Linked DNA regions of Homo sapiens. The protein of the gene in region 1 interacts with the protein of each later gene in a pairwise test. Each region holds a gene or a part of one and is shown in the gene's direction. Other genes may lie near its edges. The genes, in order: TRIM49 and MINDY3.

Region 1 (13,205 bases):
AGTGGTCTGATGGGAGATGAGGCTGCAGAGGCAGGTACGGGCATCAGAACATGGAAAAGATGAGTTTGCTATCTAGAAATTATGGGAAGCCAGTGAAGTGTCAGTCTAGTTTTAAAATATATCATTGTTAAATAAGTCTCCAGTCATTATTTATCTGAATATGTACAACTCTAAAATATTAAATGAAATAACTAACCCATCTATGGAGCTCTCATAAAAAAGTGCACCTAGGCACTTAGTTGTATTTTAAATACTATGACTCTATATACAACAGTTGGTGAATTTACTTGTCTAATTTTTTTGTTGTCTTCCCTATTTTATGACTATTTTCAAAGGTGAATTTATGCAAAAATAAAATGTGTTTTTTTGATTTTACGCCATGGTGAATAATTTTAAATTAGATACTTTACATCAGTATATATGTATGGACATGTAGAAGATGTACAGCATGTATATTTATATCAAAATATGATGCAATGTCATAAATAATTATTTAAACAATAATTATGTGTATAATTATCTTTAACAAAGTACATACAGAAAACTAATTTTGAATAGAGTTCAGTGACTCCTGTCTGTAATTCCAGCTAGTTGGACAGCTGGGCAAAAGGGTCACTTGACTCTAGGAATTCCAGGTTTCCCCAGGCAACATAGGGTGACACCTGTCTCTAAAAATAAATGTTTTTACCCAGGCCTGGAAGCAAGCACATGTAGTTCCAGCTAATCAGGAGGACCAGGCAGGAGGATCACTTGAGCCTAGGTGTTTGAGGCTGCAATGAGCTATGATCATGCACTGCACTTTGGTCTGAGTGACAGAGGGAGAACTTGTCTAAATAAAGGAAAGAAAAAAATGAAAGAAAAACAAAGTTATAAGTTAGAAAGTGTTGCTTTTTCTTTGTTCTCTAGAAGAATTTGTCTAAAAGTGTGTTATTTCTTTCTAAAATGCTTTGAAAATTTCGCTGAAAGAGATCACTGGAGTTTTCTTTGTGAGTTTTGTTTTTTAAATAATACACGGAATTTTAAGAATCCAAATCATATCTTTCATTTTTCTATGTTCTCCTCCGTCTGTTTTAGTCAGCTGTGTTTTTCAAGAAATTTTCTCATGTCATCAAAATTGTCAGATGTATAGGTATAAATTGTTCCTAAAATATTCATGCTGGCTTATTGATATCTGGATGACCATGAGTTTGCCTGTTTATTCTTGATTTGAACTCCCCCTCTCCATTGTTTAAATGAATCTCATTGGGAATTTATTAATTTAATTTATCTATTTAAGGAGCCTACTTTTGAATTTGTTGATTTATCTTTTGCATGCTTTTTAATCAATTTTCTGCAATTTCTCTAATTTTTTTTTAGTTTTTTAATGGGAATTTGCTTTAATTTTCTGGCTGTTTGCGACAGACCTTTCTTTGTTAATAACAGATGCATTTAATGATATACATTGTTTTGTAAGCATTGTCTTAAATACATTTCAAAAGTTTTTTTGTTTTGTATTTTGAATATTATTTAATAAAACATACTTTCTTCGTTTTTCTTTAGTGCATGTATTTTCAGGGAAACTATAACGGAGAGGGGAGGGAATGCATTTTTCTAATGATATCTGAAACAATTAGAAACCATTGAAATTAATTTTAATAAAACATTATAACCCAATATATCCAAAATGTTTTCAACATAATAAACATTACAAATATTAGTGAGATATTTTATATATATTTTTTTTGAGACAGGGTCTGGCTTTGTCACCCAGGCTGGAGTGCAGTTGCTGGATCCTGTCTAGCTGCAGTGTCAACCCCCCTGGCTATAGCAATCTTCCCACCTCAGCTTCCCCAGTACCAGGGACTACAGGTTCATCCCACCATGCTCCGCTAATTTTAATTTTTTTGGAGAGACGAGTTTTCGCAATGTTGCCTAGGCTTTTCTCAAACTCCTTTCCTGTGTCCACCTCTCAATGTGATGCGATGACACGCTTGAACAACAATGTTCATACATTTTAGGAAGAAAGTCCTAAGCCTACTTAAGTTCTTTTAGAAAGGATGGATTGGAATTTACTTTCTCTAAACTCAATAGTTTCTAGAACTATAAATTAGAGTCAAGTATTAAAGGCCCCAGGAAGACAATTTTAGAAGAAAAGTTTTCAAAGTGAGCCAGGCTAGATGCTTTATAATTGAGCATTCACTGGATATGTCTTGGCATCCTAATGGCCAACGCTGAGGTTTTTTATTTTTTTTAATAATGTGGAAGACTGAACTTTGTTACATGTACATTGTGTAGAATTTCCAAAGTTAGAAACTTTTCTTAAAACACTTCACTACATTCCTTTTATTTACGTATTTTTTAAAAAATTTACACTATGCATGGATACATCCTTAATAGAAGATTAGGATTCTGCAGTTTCAAAGGCAAAACCTAATCCTTTCGATTGGCTCTATTTAATTGTATAATTGCTTTATCGATTAAAATTTTAAAAAAACTTCTACAAATACATTCCAATGTTAGATAACTAAATCAGTTGTCTGATGTCATTATACAATGTCACTCCCAGACGGGAGTGAAGTGGCAGGATCTCGGCTCACTGCAACCTCCACCCCAGGGGTTCAAGCAAATCTTCTGCTGGGATTACAGGTGCCTGCCACCATGCCCAGCTAATTTTTGTATTTTTAGTAGAGAGGGCTGGTCTCGAACTCCTGACCTCAGATAATCCACCCGCCTTGGCCTCCCAAAGTGCTGGGATTACAGGCATGAGCTGCCACAGCGGCCTGATGTTACCTTTTTAAGTCCACATAAAGTGACTTTATAATTATCTTTTAATGACTCCTTATTAAAACCTAAAATATATGAAGAACTATTTTGTTTTCTGCTTTTATCTACAATACTAGATTTTCCATGATTTTTAAAGAGTAGAAGACTTTATTTATTTATTTATTTATTTATTTATTTATTTTGAAATGTAGTCTCACTCTGTTGCCCAGGCTGAATCGCAGTGGCACTGTCTAAGTTCACTGCATCCTCTGCCTCCCTGGTTCGGGTGATTCTCCTGCCACAGCCTCCTGAGTAGCTGGGACTACAGGTCCGTGCAACTATGCCAGCCTAATTTTTGTATTTTTATTAGATATAGGGTTTTGCCATGTTGATCAGACTTGTCTTGAACTCCTGACCTCAAGGGATCCACCCACCTCGGCTTCCCAGAGTGTTGGGACTGAGCCACCACGCCCAGGCTGGATTGGTTTTTAAGAACTTGATTTATACATGTTTAGTTTTAAAGAATGGCTTTTTGTGTTTTTAAACTTTTTAAAGTTAAAAACATTTCACAAGAAACTGGTGAACTTAAATGACATTGAAGATAATTTACTATCACTTAACAGAGGGGTCACCTTTGGAGAATGGGTTATGTACGGGTATAAAATTGAAAAATAGATTTGTATCCTGAGATTAATATTCTGAAGCTCTATCTCTGGTGACTTAGAGAAATTCTCAAATCACCAAACACAATAAATAAACGAATATAAAATATAGTGGCTCTTTCACTTCTCTAAAGCATTTTCTAAACTCCCAGAATTATGAAAAACATGGAAGATTCAAATATTTTGCTGAAATGGGTCAGAATGGGAGGTATCCACTTAGCCTATAGGTGCTTTCAACTCTGACTCAGCAAATTATAGGTATTAACTTTCTCTGTGGCCTACTCCTCACACCCTCCTAACCCATTCTTGCTCAATATTCTTCTTAAATCTGCATCTAGGTTTGCTATCATATTACCATCCAAATAATAATTGATTTGGATGTATTTACATAATGCAAAGTTCTTTAAGTAACTAATAACATTTACTTAGCATTAATTGGTCCCTTTCTATGTATGAAGCAGTGTTCTACTTGCTGATACCTACAATATTTTTCATAGACTTTAAAATACATCGGCATACACAGTGTGAAATCATTTTTGTGTGTGCTTGTTATTTAGGTCACAATATAAAATACATACTGCTAGAATTCTAATAAAAACATACTGCACAGGAATGGTGAGGTAGCATTTAAATCGGGAAAGTTCAGCTTGACAGGGTCCTATTACCAGTGCATCCTGTTAGACTAACAACATTCAACATCATAAGTAACACATCAGTAACAAGCTCTTAACTGAGACAAGGTTAGAAATGTGTATTTTTATTTTATAAATAATCTCTGAAAAAGACAGCCTTCTTAAGCACAAATATCATTTATTATGGTATGTTCAGTCCTTTTCAATTTTTTACTTTCAAACAATATTCTCAAATATATTTAGAAAAAGGTTTTAAGGTATAGTATTTCATTAATGCTCATCGTTTGGAAAAAAAACCCAACTGGAATACAAGCACATGAATTTGTGTTTATTTTTTTAACTGTGGATTATCATGGTATTTAATCTACTTATTACAAACAATTTTTGAAAATAGTAATTGATATAACTTGAGACTTTTCATCAAAATTTGAAGACATCTAACAATATGCATAATGAATTTGAGTTGGAAAAAATGTGTAATACAAGTAAAAACAAAAATGCATTTTCCATTCCTACCTGGAGAAAAAAAAGATGAAATAACATACAGGTTGAGCACCACTAATCAAAATATCTAAAAATCCAAAATACTCCAAAATCTCAAATGTTTTGAGCTGTGAAATGTCACCAAAAGTGAAATATCCCACACGTGACCTCATATGAGAAGTTACAGTCAAAACATATTCTCAGTGAACAAAAGACTCTCCCAGCCCCTTCAGTTGCAATATATCTTTCTGTGTCCACCTAGATGCCCCCGAGCAAGAGCACTCACAAAGGGTAATAAAATGGCATGTGTACACAAACTTTGCTTCATGAATAAAGTTATTTAAAATATTGTCTAAAATTATCTTTAGCCTATCTGTATAAGGTGTATATGAAACATAAATTTTGTGTTTACACTTGGGTTGATACACAAGATATCTTATTATGTCTATGCAAATATTCTGTAATCCACAAATATCCAAAACCTGAAATTCTTCTGGCCCTAACATTGTGAATAACAAACAGTCAACTTGTATTACATGGTTTTATAATGGATTTATTTGAAAATGTGACTGAAATCTGTGGATGAAATTTTACAAACATCAGTTTAAGCCAAATAGTATTATTTTGTATAGCAGAAGGGGATACACTGGGTTTATTTCTCCACAGCATCCAAGTAGAATGTGACAGGGGTAAGGAGGAAAGATTTCTGTATGTAGTACTCATGATCCTTTGGGCTTAGGGGAGGTAAAAACACAAGATATGCTAACCTTACATTCTGCTCTGTTCCTTGGAAATTTTATAAACAACACTTACTGTTGTTTATAAACAAGAATGGATTCCAGTGAAGGGAAATGGCTAAGTCCATGAGCACCATTAGAACTGGCAGGGTTCAGGAAAGAATGTGAAAACTCTACTCCACAGTACTCGTTTTTCTATACTGTGCTAGGAAAGATGAATGGAAAACAAATTTGGCAATGTAATGTCTGCGAACAGGATACACAGCCAGATATGGGAAGAATAAAATATAAGAATCTTGTGTCTACTGAATCTAGAGAAGAAAATGTTCTGTTAACTCTTTGCTATGAAAATGCTTCGAGGCTGGGAACCGTGGCTCACGCCTGTAATCCCAGTGCCTTGGAAGGTCGAAGCAGGAGGATTGAGTCCAGGAGTTTGAGACCAGCCAGAACAGCATAAGAAGACCATATCTCCACAAACAATTTAAAAACTAACCTGAAGTGCGGGTGTCTGCCTGTAGTCAGAGCTACTCAGGAGGCCGAGGTTGAGGATCACTTGAGCCTAGGAGGTTGAAGCTGCAGTAGCTATGATCCAGCAACTGCTCTATAGTCTGGATGACAGAGTGAGACCCTGTCTCTAAGAAAAGAAAAAAGAATAGAAAAGGAAAAACATGATTGAAATCTAAAACCTAGAGTGCTGTTTGTAACTGTTGCCTCCATTATTTTCTCAAGGAAGGAAACCTATTTGATTCTGATTTTTACAGCCTAATGATAATGTAGCTATATTCAAGAACTCAATGTTTCATTCATCAGAGGAAGAAACTTCAGAATGTAGGCTGAACCTCACCTGAACACACAAGCACAGAAGGAATCATATGTGTTTCTGTGGCTCTAAGTGAGAAAATACGTTGAGAGATTTGAGGATTTATGGAGTTGACGACATGTAATTGATCCCTGAATCCATCCCATACAGGAAACAGGACCATAAAAAGATTGCTTACGACCGGGCGCGGTGGCTCACGTCTGTAATCCCAGCACTTTGGGAGGCTGAGGCGGGCGGATCACGAGGTCAGGAGATTGAGACCATCCTGGCTAACACAGTGTAATCCCGTCTCTACTAAAAGTACAAAAAAATTAGCCGGGCATGGTGGCGGGCGCCTGTAGTCCCAGCTACTCGGGAGGCTGAGGCAGGAGAATGGAGTGAACCCGGCAGGTGGAACTTGCAGTGAGCCAAGATCACGCCGCCACTGCACTCCAGCCTGGGCGACAGAGTGAGACTCGGACTCAACAACAACAACGAAAAGCTTACCTTTTATGTGCTCATATGTAAAGTTGGGACAATGCTACACATATTGCATGTTTTCTGTGGAGATTAGGAACAATGTGTGCATGGAGACAGCACAGTAACTGGTACATCATAGCCCATGTATCACATTGTCCCCTTCCTTTTTCTAACATATTTCTCTCCACTCAAATAGATAAGAGGTTTCAAGAGAAAATGACTGGGGTTTGTAGAAAAATAGACAATAAACGGGTAAAACAATTGAGAAGAAATGCCAAAAAAAAAAAAAGCGTTAAAGAAAAGATAGCCCTGGACATTCAGGATCCACAAAGCAAAATATAAATTTGTGGAAAATTAATAAATTTTGTTAGCATGGGAAAAAATATGCAGAATTCTCTCCATGTGCGCAAATAAAACAAACAAAATGTCAAAGTAGTTATAATACCTAGGTTTTAAATGGTATTTATCATAGAATGGCATTTTTATAAAAATTTAAAAATTTCCAGAATTAAATAAAGTCAGATTTCTACATATGTTAAGGAACGAGAAATAGATCACCAACTTTCATACAAAGATTTTCCAATGAGTTTTAGAACCCAGATGAACAAAAGAGTCTATTACCAGATTCTCAAAAATAGATGTGTAATTCAACAGAAAACTTTGTGGTAGAGGTAGGTTTCAGATGCTAGAATGGAAACAGTCTCATGTACAAAAAAGTATCTTTTTTATTAAAAGGAGAAGCACTGGGAAATAAGGAAATATTCCAAATTGGCTGGAGTGTCCTTTATCCACATCACGGATTGTTCTTGCCTATACCCACCTCTACTCTCTCTTCTGGATTGGGTAGGACTTTTGGAACCTACAAAATGCCAACTCTAAAGAGAATTACTTTCTTATATTTGTTTCATGGTCTGAGACTCAAGTAGGAAAATAGGTTGTTTCCTTGATAATGCCACAGTAGACAGAGGTAGGTCTGTAATTGAAAGCTCCTAATTTCCAGTGCTCTAGGCTTCAACTGCCTAAAGCTGAGTGTTTGAATAAGTGAATGATGTGGTGCAAAAAGTGGTTGAAATAAAATCAGAAGCTACCTACCTTCCTTTCTCTCCTTGCCCTAATTCCTTCCTGATACACAGCATCATCAGACCTTGTAATGGAGTACCAGGGCCCCGCCACGGAGCTCCAGAATTTAAGCAGAGAATGTCCACAGGATCAAGTCCATGACCCAGGGTTTCACAAGTTTCCCACTCTGGAGTCCAGGACTGAGCCAAGAGGGCCCCCACACACAACCAGCGCAGATCTTACTTCTGTGTGGACACTTTGGTTAATTACTTAGATTTATTGAGGTACAGAATGTGCATACAGGGTGGTCAGTCAGTTGGTGGTCTTGGATAGTAAACTGACAATAGAACAAGAAAATCTATTGTTCAATTCCTTGTATTTAATTAAATATAAACTCTGGATGATTTTATGATGTGTCAACTTGAGTACATGTATGTACAAAGAGGGAAATGAGGGCAGTAGCCATTTTGTGGCATAGACATACCTTATTATTCTTCAATGAAACACTTACTTAGGACCTGCTGGAAAGGCATTTTGCAGATGCGAGCAAAGGTCCTAATCCTGTAACTAGGAAGTGTACCCAAGTAAGCCTGACTTCATCAGTGAAAGTCCTTTAAAGAAACACATAGGCATTCCTTGAACAACATTTTAAATGGCAAATGGGACTCTAATCTTCCAGTTGCCCCCTATTGACTTTAAACCAAAGCTTTGATTCATGACCACTGGGATCCAGCCAGCGGGGGATTTCTTTTCCTGATGGACTGTACCCAGGATCTCACATTTGCTTAAGCAGCTCCCACAATTGGGTAAGTCAAGTCTTTGCACTTAATTCATATGTGAATCTCCCTAACTATACATATATCTTATGGGTTCTGCTTTTGTCTTTGAACCTGGACAGACCTGGGTCTGATAGATTTGTCTTCACTGTTTTGACAGTCTTGACCATAAGTCTTCTGGACCATTGGCAAAGAATTCCTCTATCAGAAGATATTTGAGTAGTCCCTTCTGAAATCTCTTTTTTAAAAAAAATAATTTTCATATAACAACAAAAAGACTTGGCATAGAAAGAAAAATATAGTCCATCTCTATCATTTGGATTCTGTATTTGTGAATTTGCCTATATGCTAAAAGTTATGTGTAATCCCCAAAATAATTCCCGTGGTGCACTCCTAGTCATTGTAGGACATCATGCACTATATGGAGAAAAACGTTAAAATCATAACTCATCTTTCACCCATGAGACTGGTGAAGTTTTGTAAATTCAATGAGAGACCCCAGGTTAGTGGGTTTATTTGGTTAATCAGTGATTTCTCTTAGAGTGGTAGAAAACAGAAAACAAAAAGGAAAGTTTTATCTTCCATTGGACTTCTCTGGAAATATCCTATAAATGTACTAAAGCAGCATTTAAGCTGGATGAGGTGGTTTATACCTGTACTCTTAGCACTTTGGAAGGCCGAGACCAGAGGACCACTTGAAGCCAGGAGTTGGAGAACAGCATGGGCTACAGAGTCATACACTGACTTTACCAAAAATTTCAACAAAAAAAATTAGCCAGGTGATATAGTGTGAGCCTAAAGTCGTAGCTACTTGGAAGGCTGAAGCAGGAGGATTACTTGGAATTCAAGGCTGCAGGGAGCTATGATTATGCTACTGCACTCCAGAAGGAGACCCTTTCTCTAGAATAAATAAATGTGCACTTAGAGGAATGCCTGTATCATGGAAGAAACTCAATAAACAGTATAAAATGCATCTTAGTTAATTTCTAGCCTATGTATGCTCTGACAGGATTTATGTTACATATGATTCATTCAGGCACTGGTGTTCAGAATGAAAGTGTGATGATAATTTAATCAGAGCTGCAAAGGTGTGTTCTAAATACTGCATAAACCTAATCATCTTTGTCTCCACCTTTCTGAATGCTCTAAATACCCATAAAGAGGTGGGTGTGGTCTTCACAGGTTCTTATAAAAGGACACGGAAGAGACAAGCTCAGTTTTCTCTGAAGGAGAAGGACTGCACTTAGAACTGCATTTTGGCGACCTCTGAAATTCAGTACTGCAGTGAATGAGCTTCTGATCTTGAGGTGAACTTAACAAAATTATTTTTGGAAAAATCGTTGTGGGAACCATTAAAAGAACTCCAGGGTGAGTGAAACATATTGATAAAATTATATCATCTTTCCTTTACACAATAATAAATTAGAGTGTTAAAAATATCTCATTATCTGAAATCTACACAATGATACCATTTGTAACTCATGTTCTTACTATAGATTTTATGAATTATAAGGATACTAATTGTTGTTATTTTGTGCTTTCTATGATTGTTTAATATAGTTCTGAAAAACTTAAAATATCTAGTGTTTGCTGCAACAGATATGTATTCATAATGAATATATGGAGTTGATACATATATGTACACATAGGTGTGTGTGTATATGTATGTAATGAGTGTATTAATATTGTCAAATTGAATTGAGAAGACATTAATGAATGATGAAGTTATTTGCTTTCATAACATTCAGGTTTTAGACATGACTTTAAATTAGTAAGGTAATGATGAGCGATGCAAAATAGTGAAACTAAAACAATGAGAAAGCTCCCCAAAATATCCTACTTTAGAAATCAAAACACAATTTTTCGAACAAGTAAATTTATAAGACCTAATATGGTATGTGATTGTGATTGTCATCTCACTTGAGTCTCAATCTTATTAAACTGTGAAAAATTTCTTAAAATGTCTTAGATGAGTTCTGGAAAATATTTGCAATTCTAAGATTTTTCACTGCTTTCACTTAAATTCAGAAGTGATATAAAACTAGCAGCTTTATGCTGCTTTATGCTAAAGGATTTAAAATTGCCAAAACAAAGATTATAGTTTTTATATTAGTCAGGGTTCTCCAGACAGAACCATAGGATGTATACATATATGTGTGCAGATACATTCATGGGCCATTTGAGTCAGCCACAAACCACATATGGGGGTCCCATAAGATTATAATACCAATATGTTTACTGTACCTTTTCTGTATTCAATTATGTTTAGATACACAAATAGTTATCATTGTGTTACAGTTGCCTACAGTATGCAGTACAGAACATACTGTACAGGTTTGTAGCCTATTGTAGGAACAATAGGCTATAGTGTATACCATAGGTGTAGTAGGCTATACCATCTAGATTTGTGTGGTATATTCTATCATATTAAAACAATGAAACCGCCGGGCTGGGCACTGTGGCGCGTGCCTAGAATCCCAGCACTTTGCAAAGCCAAGGCAGGCAGATCACTTGAGGCCAGAAGTTCAAGTGCAGCCTGGCCAAGATGGCAAAACCCCATCTCTACTAAAAAAATACAAAAATTAGCCAGGCCTAGTGTCACGTTCCTGTAATCCCAGGTACTTGGGAACCTGATGCAGGAGAATCGCTCTGAACCTGGAGGCGGAGGTTACAGTGAGCCGAGATCACGCCACTGCATTTCAGCCTGCGTGACAGAAGGATACTCTGTCTCAAAAAAAAAAAACAAAAAAAAACTAAAAACACCTGACACATTTCTCAGAACATACATCTGTCCACAAGCTATACATGATTCTACATGGGACAGAATTCATCAGGAAAATTAATTTGCTTGATTATGGAGTCTAGAGAGTTCCAATATAGGCTGTCTCTAAGCTGGTGTCCTGAGAATACCGGTATCCTGGCTAAGCTCAAGTCTGAAAGGTTCAGAACAAGTTTCAGGAGAGAGACGGAGGAAGTTGCCTTTTTTCTGCCTTTTTCTTTATATCTGAGGTGTCAGCTGATTGGATGGTGCCCACACACATTGAGAGATGAGGCTCCCACTCAGCTCACCAGCTCACATGTCTCTCTCCTCTAGAAACACCTTCACAGACTCACCCACAAACAATGCTTCACTAGTTCCCTAGGTGTTGGTTAATCCAGTCAGACTGATACCTAAAATTCACCATCACACTATGGAAATATAATTACACCTCTCTGAGTTTAACAAAAACCTCCTATATGTTAGTTCAGAGCTTGCACAGCCCTAGGGGAAGTTAATTTAATCCGCAAGAAAATAAAAAGACCCAATATCTTTAATAATTTTTCTTTTCCCTACTAGTGAAACTTGATTAGTTTAATTGCAGTCTTTTTCTTTGTTTATTTGGTTGGTTGGCTTTTTTTTAAATTTTGTTTTGATTTGGGTCTTTGTTTTTAATTTAATTTAATTTTAAGTCCTGGGATAACTGCAGGACTTGCAGGCTTGTTATGTAGGTAAACTTGTGCCATGGTGGTTTGCTGCCCGGCTTTTGTGACTCTCTATAAAAATATGTCATAGAACCATCTTCTCATATTTCTTTGGCCATCTTCTCATATTTCTTTGGCCCGGGTAGTTTTTTCCCTCCCACTCTTTCACAGTCATTCATCAGTTATTGAAAGAAGAATAGGGACAACTATGATTTATTCTGACCACTTAGAATCAAAACCCAATTTCCAGATCTATGTTCAGAAAATGGGTAGTTGAATAGGTTTGTATTATGCTACAGACAGGAACTAGGAGTAGAAGGGACTGTGAGTCCTCTGGTTAGTAATATCTGTTAGAAAGCCAGGAGACTCCCTCTAAGTGTAAATTTTTAAGTTTGTAACAGAAGAAATAGTTTGTTGTACTTTAATGAACACTGTCAAGAGAAGAAAATATAACTATCACATATCTCCACATGTTTAGAAGGTTTTCATCAACCCAGGCCCCAAAATGACATGTTTCTCTTTGTTCCTCAGAAACATGAATTCTGGAATCTTACAGGTCTTTCAGGGGGAACTCATCTGCCCCCTGTGCATGAACTACTTCATAGACCCGGTCACCATAGACTGTGGGCACAGCTTTTGCAGGCCTTGTTTCTACCTCAACTGGCAAGACATCCCATTTCTTGTCCAGTGCTCTGAATGCACAAAGTCAACCGAGCAGATAAACCTCAAAACCAACATTCATTTGAAGAAGATGGCTTCTCTTGCCAGAAAAGTCAGTCTCTGGCTATTCCTGAGCTCTGAGGAGCAAATGTGTGGCACTCACAGGGAGACAAAGAAGATATTCTGTGAAGTGGACAGGAGCCTGCTCTGTTTGCTGTGCTCCAGCTCTCAGGAGCACCGGTATCACAGACACCGTCCCATTGAGTGGGCTGCTGAGGAACACCGGGTAAGTGATGGCTCTGAAGATCGATTTCTGTAAAGGAAGCATAAAATTCCTGTGGGTCTATTTTCTTGGAGATTGGATAAAGCCAACTCTGAGTCCCTTTAAGCAGCTCTGTTTGGGCTTTCTTAGCTTCCAACCTCTGGGCTTTGACAAACATGAAGGGAAACAAAGGAAATGCCATTTACTAGGGGCTTATTTGTCTCTCATTCTGGGCCCCCTCCCTATGTCATGGTCTGCACTGGTGCTTCAATTTATGGCTCTTTTGCAGGAGAAGCTTTTACAGAAAATGCAGTCTTTGTGGGAAAAAGCTTGTGAAAATCACAGAAACCTGAATGTGGAAACCACCAGAACCAGATGCTGGAAGGTTAGTCCTGTACTACTCTACCTTCTCCAGGAACTTATGGTGGGCAAATGGGTGACTCTTAAAATA
Region 2 (12,462 bases), on another chromosome or scaffold:
CATCTTTAGTTTTAAAATACTAAATGTACAAAATGTAGAGTTACTGACCGGGTACAGTTATGGTTACACTTCAGAATATCTGTGCTTATGAGTTGTAAATCTCATAGCTACCTTAAAAATGTTTAAGCTTGAGGTTAATCATATATAAGCATGTTGTTAAGAAGGTCACATTGTTGTTTTTGTTGTCATTTGCCAATTAGCTCTTGGTTGGGGTGGGAACTGAGTTGCAGGTTATGGTTTCTGCGGAAAGGCTGCCAGCCATGACAAAGTACATGCTGTCAGTGCTCCTGAAAAACGGTGTACAGACTGAGCATCCCTCACCCGAAAGGTTGATCCTCCAAAATTTTGAGTGCCAATATGACACCGTGGAGCATTTCAGATTTTGGACCAGATCAGGGATGTTCAGCCATTATATATTTGCAAATATTCATAAACCAGAAAAAATTTGAAATCTAAAACATTTCTAGACCCAGGCATTTTGGATGAGGGAGACTCCACCTGTAATATCAAATGGATATAGCCTATAAACACAGAAACCTAATTGTTCCTGTCTGTTGGTGGCCACATAAAGCCTGTTTCACATTCGGAGACGCTGAGCCTTTAGCTATGACTTAACTTAAGCAAAATCAGTGATCAGACTCATCAAAGCTAAGCCCACAGAGCCAGAGCTTGAATGTTTTCACAAGTGCCTTCAACCAAGGTCGTCTTTATTCTCAGTACCTCAAATTATTGGTAACTTAACAAACTGGAATTACTCTAAACCCTTCACTTAAAAAATTGCACATTTTTAATTATTCTAGATGACTCATAACCTTTTAGTCAAGGCCAATCTGTCTTCAAATGGGTAAACAGCTCCTTATGAGGTTTAAGAATAGAAAAGAGGTTTAAGAATAGAAAAGACCTTTCTACAATCATAACTTCATTCCTTTCTGATAGAGATAGTGTACAATTCCACACCCTGAAAGAGCAACTGCACACTTTATTCTGTAGTTTGATTATAGGAGCAGGGCTTTTGGACATCTTGTTCTCCATGGCAAGATTTTTTTTTTAATCATCTAATCCCTGAAGGACATTGGAAGCTGATTTAAAGCTGAGACAATCTTCAGGAATGAGTAAATGGATAGGGAAAATTGGGCACTGTACATTTAAGGAATAAACAACTTTTGTTTAAAACCACTCTCATTTCAAACTACCCCACAAGGACTTTGTGTGTGTCATGGTCTGTTGCATCATCAGAGTTTGGACCATTTTCCATAAAGTAGTCATCATCAGCATTAGTTTGACTCTTCATTTCAGGGCTGTTTTTTTTAAACCTACAGCTTTCATTTAAATCACCAAGTCTGTTTTAGAATACCTTTGCTGTTAATCTGTCAGTTGTCTAAGTATCAGTGGATCACTGACATTCCTTCAAGAAACTAAATAACATTGTGACAAAGGGAATTTGTTGGTAAAGAATTATTTTAATTGAATTGTTAAATGCAAATGTAAAGGTTTACTTTGTTTATTGAAAGATAAACCTAAGATTTTAAGTAGAAAAATATTTTACCCACTTAACGCTGTAACACTGTTTAAAGATCAAGTAATTTGACTTTAAGCTTTCGTCGGAGTTCTCAAGTTAAAAAATATTTTTAAGTATTTGCCGATGTTTCCAAGAAAACAAATAGAAGAGGGTCTCTAATAGCAATAGGCACTATGCCTAAAATAAACTTAAGGAATAGTATGTTAACTCTTTGTATTTTTTATGCGATTTTTTTTTCCTGGAACCTGATCAGCATTAATAGCATTTCTTGAAGTAAATTCTTATTTCAAGTTGTTTCTGATTTTTTCCCCCCTAGATAATGGATTCATACCCGATTCACTTCTGGAAGATGTGATGAAAGCATTGGACCTTGTTTCAGATCCTGAATAGTAAGCTAAATAGGAAGTGTTATTTAGCCAACTCAAAAAGATTCGATTAAGTTTAAGACATATTGTACATTTTTTGCCTTTTTAAAAATCTATATCTGCATATATGAAGCATAGCAATCTATGTAAGGCAAAGATTAAGAAATCGAACTAATCCAATATTATAGCAGACTTGACATACTTAAATTGAGTTTCCTTTCCCACCCAGCAATTACTGTCCTGCTTTTTAAAAAATGCTAAAAGTGTCTTTCTATAAACTTTAAAAAGTTTCTCTGCAAACACTTCCCCACGTCTTAAAATTTTATGTGACATTAGTATCTTCAGTAAAGTAATGACGGTTCTGTGTAGATGGTGCTAGTTGCCCTGCTTAAATAACCAGCAGGCCTCTGACTTTCCCTCTTAAATAAAGATGATCAAAGATATCTAACATTTCTAAATGATTAAATTAACTGACCTGAAACTTTTAGGGATGGCTGCAATATATTATGGCATATCGTTTTTCAGTATTTTCTTAGGATCCTGTCATTGTCTTCATTCTCACTGTTATGTTTTATGCATTGTTACATCTACAACTTCCTCTGTAGATTAAGATCTTTAGTTATTATCCATGAAAAAATAACTCTTCTTAAGTGGATACATGTATTGATCAAATATGGGAATAAAAGTTAAGATAGGACCTTTACTCCTTTTTTCAGCATAGTTTTTCCTTCTGCAAGTTTTTCTAAGAATGCAAAAACTTGAGCTTATCAAACATAATGAAAGAGTTCAGCAAAAGCAACAGGAAACATTGGTAGACACCGTTTTTAGAATTTGGTCTTGTTCCGTTTTTAGATGAGTTCAGTCATACTTTCTTTGAAAGTATGCAATACACATAAACTAGCCACATCTGAATTAATGTGTCTCAAGCTTACTACTCAGAGCTGTGATTTCATCCATTCTCAATAGTTAGAAATATTAATAAATGAATAATTGTTTTCAATTTAAAGAGAAATTCAGAGTGTTGAACTAGTCCAACAAATGGTATGATAGTAATTACTATACTTCTTCTAACTTTATTTCCAAGTAGAGACCATGTTGTTTACACTGCTCTAATTTACAAAAGAGAATTAACTCAAGTAATTTTTGTTACTGACCAGCCTAAGACAAGGAAGAGAAAGAAGAAAGTTTTTTTTTTTCCAAATTCTTCCATAGCTATATATCATCTACCTAATTTTCCTTGTTTTATCAGATGGAAAACGTACCTTGAATCATGAAGTTAGTACAATTGATTCAATCAGGTTGTTTTTCTTGAAGTAGTTGAAAGATTGGACTGAAGTATTCACTCTACTTTGGCCTATTTACAACTGTAATACAGAATGGCCCATGAAATAACTGGGCCATCCTAAGGATTAAATGAATTAAACACAAATGACCCTGCCTTCATTTGTTTCATCATAACTTCCCGGCCTTACTCAGACTCATTAAAATGCCATATCCTTTGTACAGTATACTATACAAGAATGATAGCCACAGGCCCACAAAAGTATCTCACAGGGCCAATACTAGACGTCAGGTAGGAGGTCTGTGAGGCAGCCTGACCCAGGTGTTTCCGGGAGAGATGGCTATGTCAGCGCAGATGCAGCTTTCATAAACCTTAAAACATAGCTTACCCTCACAAGAATAGCTTTAACTCCTTTTGTGAAAGGCACACCTGGTAACTGACCCAGACCGAAGAGGCAAACTGAAAGGAGAGAAGTTGCCCCTGAGGAAGGTGGTTGACTAGAACCACCTGAAATCCCCAAACACAACACTTTGCATGTTGTGTAGTAAGGTAGATTTAACTTGGCCTTTATAGTTTGAGATAGCAAGGAAAATAAAACTTTTCTGAAGACTATTTTCATTTTTAAACCCATTAAACTGCAGTCTGCCTTCTTCTGCCTTCTTCTTCCTTCTTTCTAGTCACACATAACACCACCTGTCACCAGCCTTGGTACACCTGCATTGTAAGGGCTGGTATGCACTTTAGGCTGCTGCTGGACCAATACAGTATATATCAGTCACTGTCATTCATGACGCATTAGCTCTTTGAGAATTAATGTAGCTCTTTAACCTTCAAATTACATTGTCTATGAATTTTAAGCTGCTATCTCATTTAGTTTTTAAAAGTAAGCTTTTTAAGAGATGTTTTCTATTATCTGATGTACCACTGCCTTTTGACCCTGTATTTTAAGCCCAAGGAGAAAAAGAAAAACATTTTGTTAGTTAAATGCCTCATTTGTTAAATTCAGGCATACCTATGAAGCAAAGAGAATTTGCCTTTGGGAAGTTACAAGCTTGAGTTTATAAACCTTGGTTTTTAAATTACTTTACCTAATAAGGAACAATATTCCAAAGTCATCACAATTTAAATTTTAAATAGTAACAGATTACTCTAGTTTAAAAATAACCAAGTTTGGCAAATTAGATGTCATTCCTGTGTATTTGTCATTAAGGTTCTAAAAAGAACAGCTCTTAGTGTTTTTGGCAGCCGAATGTGTTGTAGTACCAGTAATTTAATCATGAAAGAAAAGCAGCTTTTTTTTTTCCTCTGGTATCCACTGTTTTTCTTCTTTCTCCCCGTAGTATAAATCTCATGAAGAATAAATTAGATCCAGAAGGATTAGGAATCATATTATTGGGCCCATTTCTTCAAGAATTTTTTCCTGATCAGGTAACATAGTTGAGGAAATATATTCATTGTTATTCTGTTGGGATGATTACCTGTGATTGTTTGCAGCATTTTCTCTTTCTGTACAATGTCCTAATGCGCAGATATGAGACTGAGAAAACACCGTTACATGGAAACCTTCCCAGACAGAGGGAATGTGTGTTCGAATACGGTAACGCAGTGCCTTGATGGGGAGGGCAGCAGAAGATGACGCAGACACCAGTCTATACACATAATGATACGGAGAGAACAGTTCGGAAGTTTGAGGAGTAAAAAGAGAAAGATTCTCTTTCTCCACTCCCACCCCCACTTTTCTTCTCTCAGGAAGCTGTTAAATACTGTGAGAAGAGGTCAAGGTGGCTGTGGGTAGTAGAAGCCCCTAGCTAGTGAAGCTAAGCTCCTGGAGAATTAAAACCTAAGTGGGTCTGGGCCGTTTCCCATTGGGACATGTCTTCCACTGGGCTTTGATAGGAGCTCAGTTACCTGGAATAGCAGAGGCATCTGGGCCAACCTGAATGTTTTTGAGTTGTATCTGCATCATTGGCAAGCCAGTTCTATATCCAATACCCATCTTTCTGTCTTTGTTCTCTAAGTGAAGCATTTTACCACTAAATCAAATTACTTAACTAGATAACAGATATCATGGTCATTTTATCAGATATCAGTATAGTTTGCACTGAAGTTCATTGTTGCAATAGACATTCCAATTTCTATTTTACCGCTATTATTAGAGAGACATATTGACAAATAGAAAAAATTTAAAAGCAAGAGGGAAAATTTCAAAATATAATTACTAAAATTCAGAATGTAATTGTTAAAAAAGATTGTTAAACTCAAGATAAAATTGTTAAGAAAGAGGTAAGATTCAAAAAGTAACTGAGGATATCACAATGTAGACAATGTAGACTACTGGACTTCTTAAAACTTTGGTCTTAAAGCCTTCATGAAAAATTAGATTTTATTGTCCGACATTAGACCCTTCAGTGTGATATCCTCTTTGTTCACATTCTGACTGGATATCTGGATTAATAATACATTATACCATCTTAAACTTTGAGACAGTATTAATTTTAATTATATTTCAAGGCTGCTATCGGAACTTTTGATAGAAATGTTGATTCTTAGTTATAATAAAAAGAATATTCCTGTTTTTAATTTAATTTGGGGAAGATTTTGAAAAGTGAGAAATGTAAAGTGAGACAGTTACTTGTAGTAATTTTTTAGGTAAAAAGAGGGTTCTAGTCCCTTCTCTTTCGCCTGTAACAGACATTTCCATTTGGTTGTACTGTTTGTTGCCTCTGTGTTCCTCTCTCACTGTTTACTTGTTGCCTGCTATTCTGAAGACACTCTCCACCTGGGCCTGGTTTGTCTCATTGTCTGTATAGTTCATGCTGTTTGCCTCCCACGAGCATGTGATCCTGCTCTTGGTTACCTTTAGAGCAGTGAGTTCTCAGTATGATCTCCAAGAGCTTGTTAGAAATGCTAATTCTCAGGTTTCTCCCTGAAGCAGAGACTTTAAGGGTGGGTGCAGCAATGTGGTCTAACAAGCCCTGCAAGTGATCTGGAGGCCCAAGTTAGAGAACAGCTGCTTTAGAGGAAGACCTGTCACAGTCCCACCTATTCCCATCTGTTCCCATCCTATAGCAGCTCAGACGCCCTCGGTGTCATAGATCTTTTCCGATCATGCCCTACATACCACTGATGTCCCCTTTCCCCTGTAGCCACAAAATGCATAGTGACTCAACACTCCTTTTGGCAATTAGTCACATACTGCCTTGTCCCTAACAGATGAATATAGTGATCATTCCGTAAACTATTTATTTATTTAAGATGGAGTTTCGCTCCTTTACCCAGGCTGGAGTGCAGTGGCACGATCTCAGCTCACTGTAACCTCCGCCTCCCTGGTCCAAGCAATTCTCCTGCCTCAGCCTCCTGTGTAGCTGGGACTACATATGGTGGCCTGGCTAATTTTTGTATCCTTAGTAGAGATGGGGTTTCACCTTGTTGGTCAGGCTGGTCTCAAACTCCTAACCTCAGGTGTTCCACCCGTCCTGGCCTTCCAAAGTGCTGGGATTACAGGTATGAGCCACCTCACGAGGCCCAGTAAACATTTATTTAATCAGCCACAAATAAATGAAGTTGCAAAACTGGAGTGACAAGGACAGCCAGGAAAATATTTAACTTCGGTAATCTTTACAATGCTTCAAGTAGGTCCTGTGGAAGAACACTTATTTGCTATGATGTAGAGGCTGATGCAGGAAGAAAAAAGTGGTAATATTTATAAGCTTTTCAAGACCATTCGTTTAAATAAGAATAGCAGAAGCAGCTCCCCTTTCCCAAGCACATACTCTCCATCAGGCACTGTGTGCCTTCCAAACACCATACTATTATCTTCCCCATTTTGACAATGAGGAAATTGAGGATTAGAGAACTTAAGACGATTGTTGAAGGTCATACACTAGGTATCTTAGTAGCTGATTCAGGAATTTTTTGACAATGAGGAAATTGAAGATTAGAGAACTTAAGACAATTGTTTAAGGTCATACACTAGGTATTTTAGTAGCTGATTCAGAAATCCAATATAGTCTGTCTAACCACAGAGTCTATGCACTTTACCAGTGGGCTACACTACTTTTTGTTGGTATTTCTGTATTTTATGCCAGTTAATTACTGGAAATAGGGAATATAAATTATATTCAGTTACAGGAAAATGGTTATTTAAGTTCAAATAATTTAACTCTGATAGCCAAGAGTCAAATTATGTAACTAATTGCAATGACTCCTGTAATTAAGGAAACGATCAAATTGATTTTTCTATTTTCTGTAAGGCATTTTGAGTGGGATACAAAACAATTTTAGGCTTTAGTTGGGAATGTAAGACATGAAAAATTAAACAGTCTTTCAAAATAATAGAAGAGATGATACAAAGTAGTACTATATGATTCCTTCTCAAATTATTTAGACAATTGTTATGATAAAGGTTAAGTTCCAGTGTAGTAAAAAACTAACTAGTGTGTCCAGGAAAAACTTTACAGAAAAAGTAAGATTTAAACCAGGTCTGGAAAAAGGAAGGAGAGGAGGGCATTTTAGAGAAGAGTAAAAAAAAATCATGAATGTGCAAAAGGCCAACAAAAGATCTTTTCATGATGAAATGAGTCATGCTTGTCCAAAACAGAATTCAGAAAGGTGAGTAGTTGGAGATAAGACTAAAAAGGTAGATTAAGCCCTGTATGATTTTAAGACTCATGATTGCAGGTCACAGAACCTCAGCCTAAATTGGCATAAGTGAGGGGGAAAATACATGAAGGGGAAGGAGTAGCTCAGGTGAATTGAAGAAGCAAGCACCGGGAAAGTGCTCCTGGAGTCCTTGAACAGCACTGGGAGGTCTCCACCTCCCATCCCCTGTCTCTAAAGTGGCTACATTCTCACAGCCTATCTTTCTGTAGGAGCTGAAGCTCCAGTTGCCAGCAGCTGTCTTCCCTTAATTCCAGTTGGAAAAAATTCTAAGGAGGGCCATGTGCCTGTTTGTATCCATCGGATATGGCCAGGAAGACAAGGGGGATCTATCCAGGCAGACTCAGCCAGGGGCCCTGAGGGAAATCACTGGGAGCCAGGCCTGTAATGGCCTTGAACGCCAGGTTAAGAGGGTTGAACGTGATCTTTAGCTAATTGAAAAGCAAGGTTAAGATAGTGGGAATAACATGACCCATTTTTCTACAAGCTTACTCTGTTAGTGATATATAGGATATCCTTTCTTTATTGAATATTACTGAAATCGCCTTAAGCATTATAAGTATGTTTTCATTTCTCACAGTGCTCTTTTCACTAATTAATGGTTGACAATATTCAAATATTGGATATTTTTTGGAAAAGAAACCACTAATTAAACATCGTGGGCCAAATTGGAAGTATTGGTACATACTGGAAGTGTATTTAGTCTGAGTAAAAGTGATGCTACTGCTTTTCTCAATTCATTGAGAGGAACAAATTATTTACATAGAAAAGGAGATATACTTTAGCAAATGTTTTAGAAGCTTGTCTTTTGAAAAAAGTTATAGTGATACATGCACATAATTAAAAAAAAAATAAGTTAGTTCTGAAGAGCTTATAATGGAAATCAACCTTCCCTACTTTCCAGCATCTTCTTCAGAGGCAACACTTTCAACTTCAGGGCTTTCTGGTAGTTACAACTCCATAAACCTAAGTTCCTTCTTTTGTCAAATGAGTCCCCAGTCAAAGGATAAGGATTTGAGAAACATGCATTTTACTTTCAGTTGATTAGAAATTGCCTGATATAAATATAATTTAAAGTGTTAATAGTCCTTTATTTATAATAGGGCTCCAGTGGTCCAGAATCTTTTACTGTCTACCACTACAATGGATTGAAGCAGTCAAATTATAATGAAAAGGTATGATAATTCACGTAGTCGTCGGTGTTCAACTGGGTTGATGAAATAATTATGTGAGTATGTAACAATGTTCGATTCCCGTACAATTGCTACCTAAGATTATTCCAGGAGTCTCTTTACTATGAGGACACATTTTAGAATCAGCCATCTTTGGATTTGACCAGTATATGTTAGTCTGCATTGGAAACTGACATTGGACTTCAGAGCAGTAGTTTCACCATGACTAAATACACCCCCATACAGATCGTTACCCTTGGCAGTGTAGCGTGTTTCTAAATCAACATCGTAGTTAGTCCAGTGAAAGTTGTTACTTATCCATTTAAAGGAAGAAAGAGGTAACAGTGAGACTTTTTACTGGAAAAAATATTTTTAAATAAATAACCTTCATAGTCAGCATATATTGAGCATTTACCCGAAATTGTATTAAGTACTTTGCTTAAGTTTCACAGCACCTTATGAAGGAAGTGTTGTCTGTATATCTCCATTTTACAGGTCAAGCAGCCAGGAAATGACAGAGCTGGGAGTGAAACTTAGTCCAGCTCAGAGACCATGCTCCTACCCATGATGCTTTGCAGCTTTCCTTTGCTAACCGTTGACAAAGCACATAGGTGATTCACTGCCAGGTGTACTCAACCTGGCGTAAAGCTAGAGTTCGGCTGCATTGATTTCCCCTTTTTGTGTGTCTATTATCTTTGCATTTATTCAAGTATGAGTTACAGTACATACTAGTTATAGTATATATATATATATATAATATATATGTATTAGTTATAGCTAATATTAAAGGAATAAGGTCTAACATTCCTTTTTAATTTGATCTGCCCATGCTGACTTCATGTATCTAAATTGTGGAAGGTTACAGAAAACAGTGTAAATTAAGTACATAATTTTAATTAGACCAAATCTAAAAGACTAAAATTTACTGCTATCTTTATAACAAAATATAAATTAGATGTTTTTGTCAGGTCCAAAGATATATATATACAGCATCCAAATTTTCTTGACAATGTATATTCTTTGCATGTATATATATATGCAAACTTGGATGTTGTTTTCTAATGTGCGAATGAGTGCTTCATCTAGAGTTTGATGTTTGCACAGCTTTGTAATAGGAGGTACTTTATAATCACTAATTATTCACCTACACAATCCCTGCAAGATAGGTCAAATATTATCCATATTTTACAGATGAGGCATCTGAGACGGGGAGATCAAGTGACTCACCCAGGGTCACACAGCAAGTCATTGGCAGAACAGGGATTGGAACTGAGTTCCTGATTCCCAATCCTGTCCTTGGTCTGCTTGGCCACTCTACCTGTATGTAGTATAAGTTTTCAAATCATGTTTGTGACAAGCTTCTGACACACCAACAAAAAGATTAGAAAACAAATAGGATGAACTGTTAAAATGACAGTAATATACAGCAGCTATAAAGCAAAGTATGGATGTCATTAAGTCACAGAAATATGTTTTGAAGTTAATCAGGAGCTAAAATTATAAGCTGCATAGCAAGGTCCTGTTAGAAAGGAAACAGACAAAAGGAGAATGCTGGCAAAGTGAGATGGAGTCTGAGCCGCCAGGCATCCGAGCCTGATTGAGGCCATGGAGGTGGGTCATGGCACCTTGCCCAAGCACTTCTGCTCTAATGACATGAGTACATGAAGTTCTTTGTGAAAAATAGGGCCGATTGTATTTAACTTAATAACTTGAATTATATTCTTTGTGTATAACTTTTCAGAGAAGGCAGTTTTGCTTTGGGGACTGAAAAGCCCGAGTTGTAGTTTCAATGTCAATTTATTTCATCAACACTAGAAACTAATATATTAACTAAAATAAAGATGCCAAAAAATGTATTTCACGTTACAATGTATCTTTAGCACTTTCTTAGGAATGAGTAGATTCATGACACAAGATTATCTGATCTAGTAATATATTCTATTCCTATATTTAATGTGTTTTAGAGGCAACTACCATTTAAGGATAATAAAGTTGTTTCTTTTGGCTCCTTAAATAGCTTATGGCTTTTATTTTGGAAGAACATAATTACACTCATGTGTATCAGCCAGTGAATGTGTAAAAATAATTTTATACACTTTGGAAGAAGACAGTCGTCTGTATCTGTTTCTTTTAAATTATACAGCATCAGAATTTCTCTTGGTACAAAAAAGAAATTAACCACCAAGGAGTGCCTTAATGTCCACAGTGAGCCCTTGGTAATGAGTTAGGGTTTTTGTTGATATGTCCAAAATACTTTTTAAGTATGTTTCATTGTAAATTAATCAGAATAAAATTTTTCTTGCTATTCACCTGCCAGTATATATTTCTGTGATCACTGCCACTGCATATACAGTATCTGGTTAGTTTGATCTTTCAACGTCTCTTTTACTTTTCTTTCTGTCCTGACATCCTTTTTAATTTTTTTCTCCATGATTTTTCATGCTGTACAGAATGCACTCATGAATTGCATTTCAGGAATATTTAATACCATAATAGCAAGTTTTGTTGACAAACATTCAAATTGGTTTCAGCTCTAGAAATTCAATACTTAAATTAGAAGGAGACACATGTTCCTCAGAACATAATAGCTATATTCCTTTTATAGCTCTCCGTTTCATTAGGCAGCATGAGCATCTGAGAACCTCAGTATTAAAGCAGTAGGACCTGTATAAATTATATGTAAATATGATAATTAAGCATTTCTTTCCGATGGTATAGATCCGTTGAAGAATGTTTTTTTTCTTAGAAACAATCTATGTGTTTTAGGATTCACATGATCTTGAATTTTTTAAAAATCACCTGGCCAGCTAGCAATTAAATATCGTTTACAAATTTACTTTCACATTAATCAGTAAGCAGATATTCCTTCTCATTTCTAGCAAAATAAAATTACATGTCAAGTTTCATCTGAAACTATGTAATACCTTATTTGCTAGCCTCTAAAAATTGTTTTCATTCCACATAAGAATTTGCTAAGACTGTTGCTTGACCTTGGTGGCTTTATTTTGTTCAACAGGTCATGTACGTAGAAGGGACTGCAGTTGTGATGGGTTTTGAAGATCCCATGCTACAGACAGATGACACTCCTATTAAACGCTGTCTGCAAACCAAATGGCCATACATTGAGTTACTCTGGACCACAGATCGCTCTCCTTCACTAAATTAATTTGTCTAAGTATTTATAAGGAAGATCTTAATAACAGATGTTGAAAGAAGGAGTCAAGACTGGCAATTGGCTGGATTAAGCTAAACACTGGTATCACTGATTAACTGTAAATAACAATTAAAAACACATTTTCAGTGTTTATGATATGTTTAAATTATTTGTCCTAAAGCTTTATGTTAAAGATTATCCTATTTTACCCCTTCGTGTGAAATTTACTAGCAAAATTAAGCTTTCATCAAAGTTCATCACTTTTGCATTCAGATACTTGGTCATTTACTTACCAAATTACAAACGCAATA

What was found.
Region 2: the proteins of TRIM49 (region 1) and MINDY3 interact in binary tests that used the Homo sapiens proteins (3 or more experiments, as listed by UniProt).

The regions. Positions count from the first base shown.
Region 1 is NC_000011.10:89,803,632-89,816,836, reverse strand, and holds the start of TRIM49 (tripartite motif-containing protein 49), read left to right. Parts: upstream 1-8,261; 5' UTR 8,262-8,400; intron 8,401-9,552; 5' UTR 9,553-9,738; intron 9,739-12,363; 5' UTR 12,364-12,367; coding exon 12,368-12,778; intron 12,779-13,043; coding exon 13,044-13,139; intron 13,140-13,205.
Region 2 is NC_000010.11:15,778,693-15,791,154, reverse strand, and holds part of MINDY3 (ubiquitin carboxyl-terminal hydrolase MINDY-3), read left to right. Parts: intron 1-1,835; coding exon 1,836-1,908; intron 1,909-4,506; coding exon 4,507-4,594; intron 4,595-4,695; coding exon of another isoform or gene 4,696-4,701; exon of another isoform or gene 4,702-8,921; intron 8,922-8,928; coding exon 8,929-9,000; intron 9,001-10,188; coding exon of another isoform or gene 10,189-10,278; exon of another isoform or gene 10,279-11,306; intron 11,307-12,013; coding exon 12,014-12,163; 3' UTR 12,164-12,462. UniProt on the Homo sapiens protein: Hydrolase that can remove 'Lys-48'-linked conjugated ubiquitin from proteins.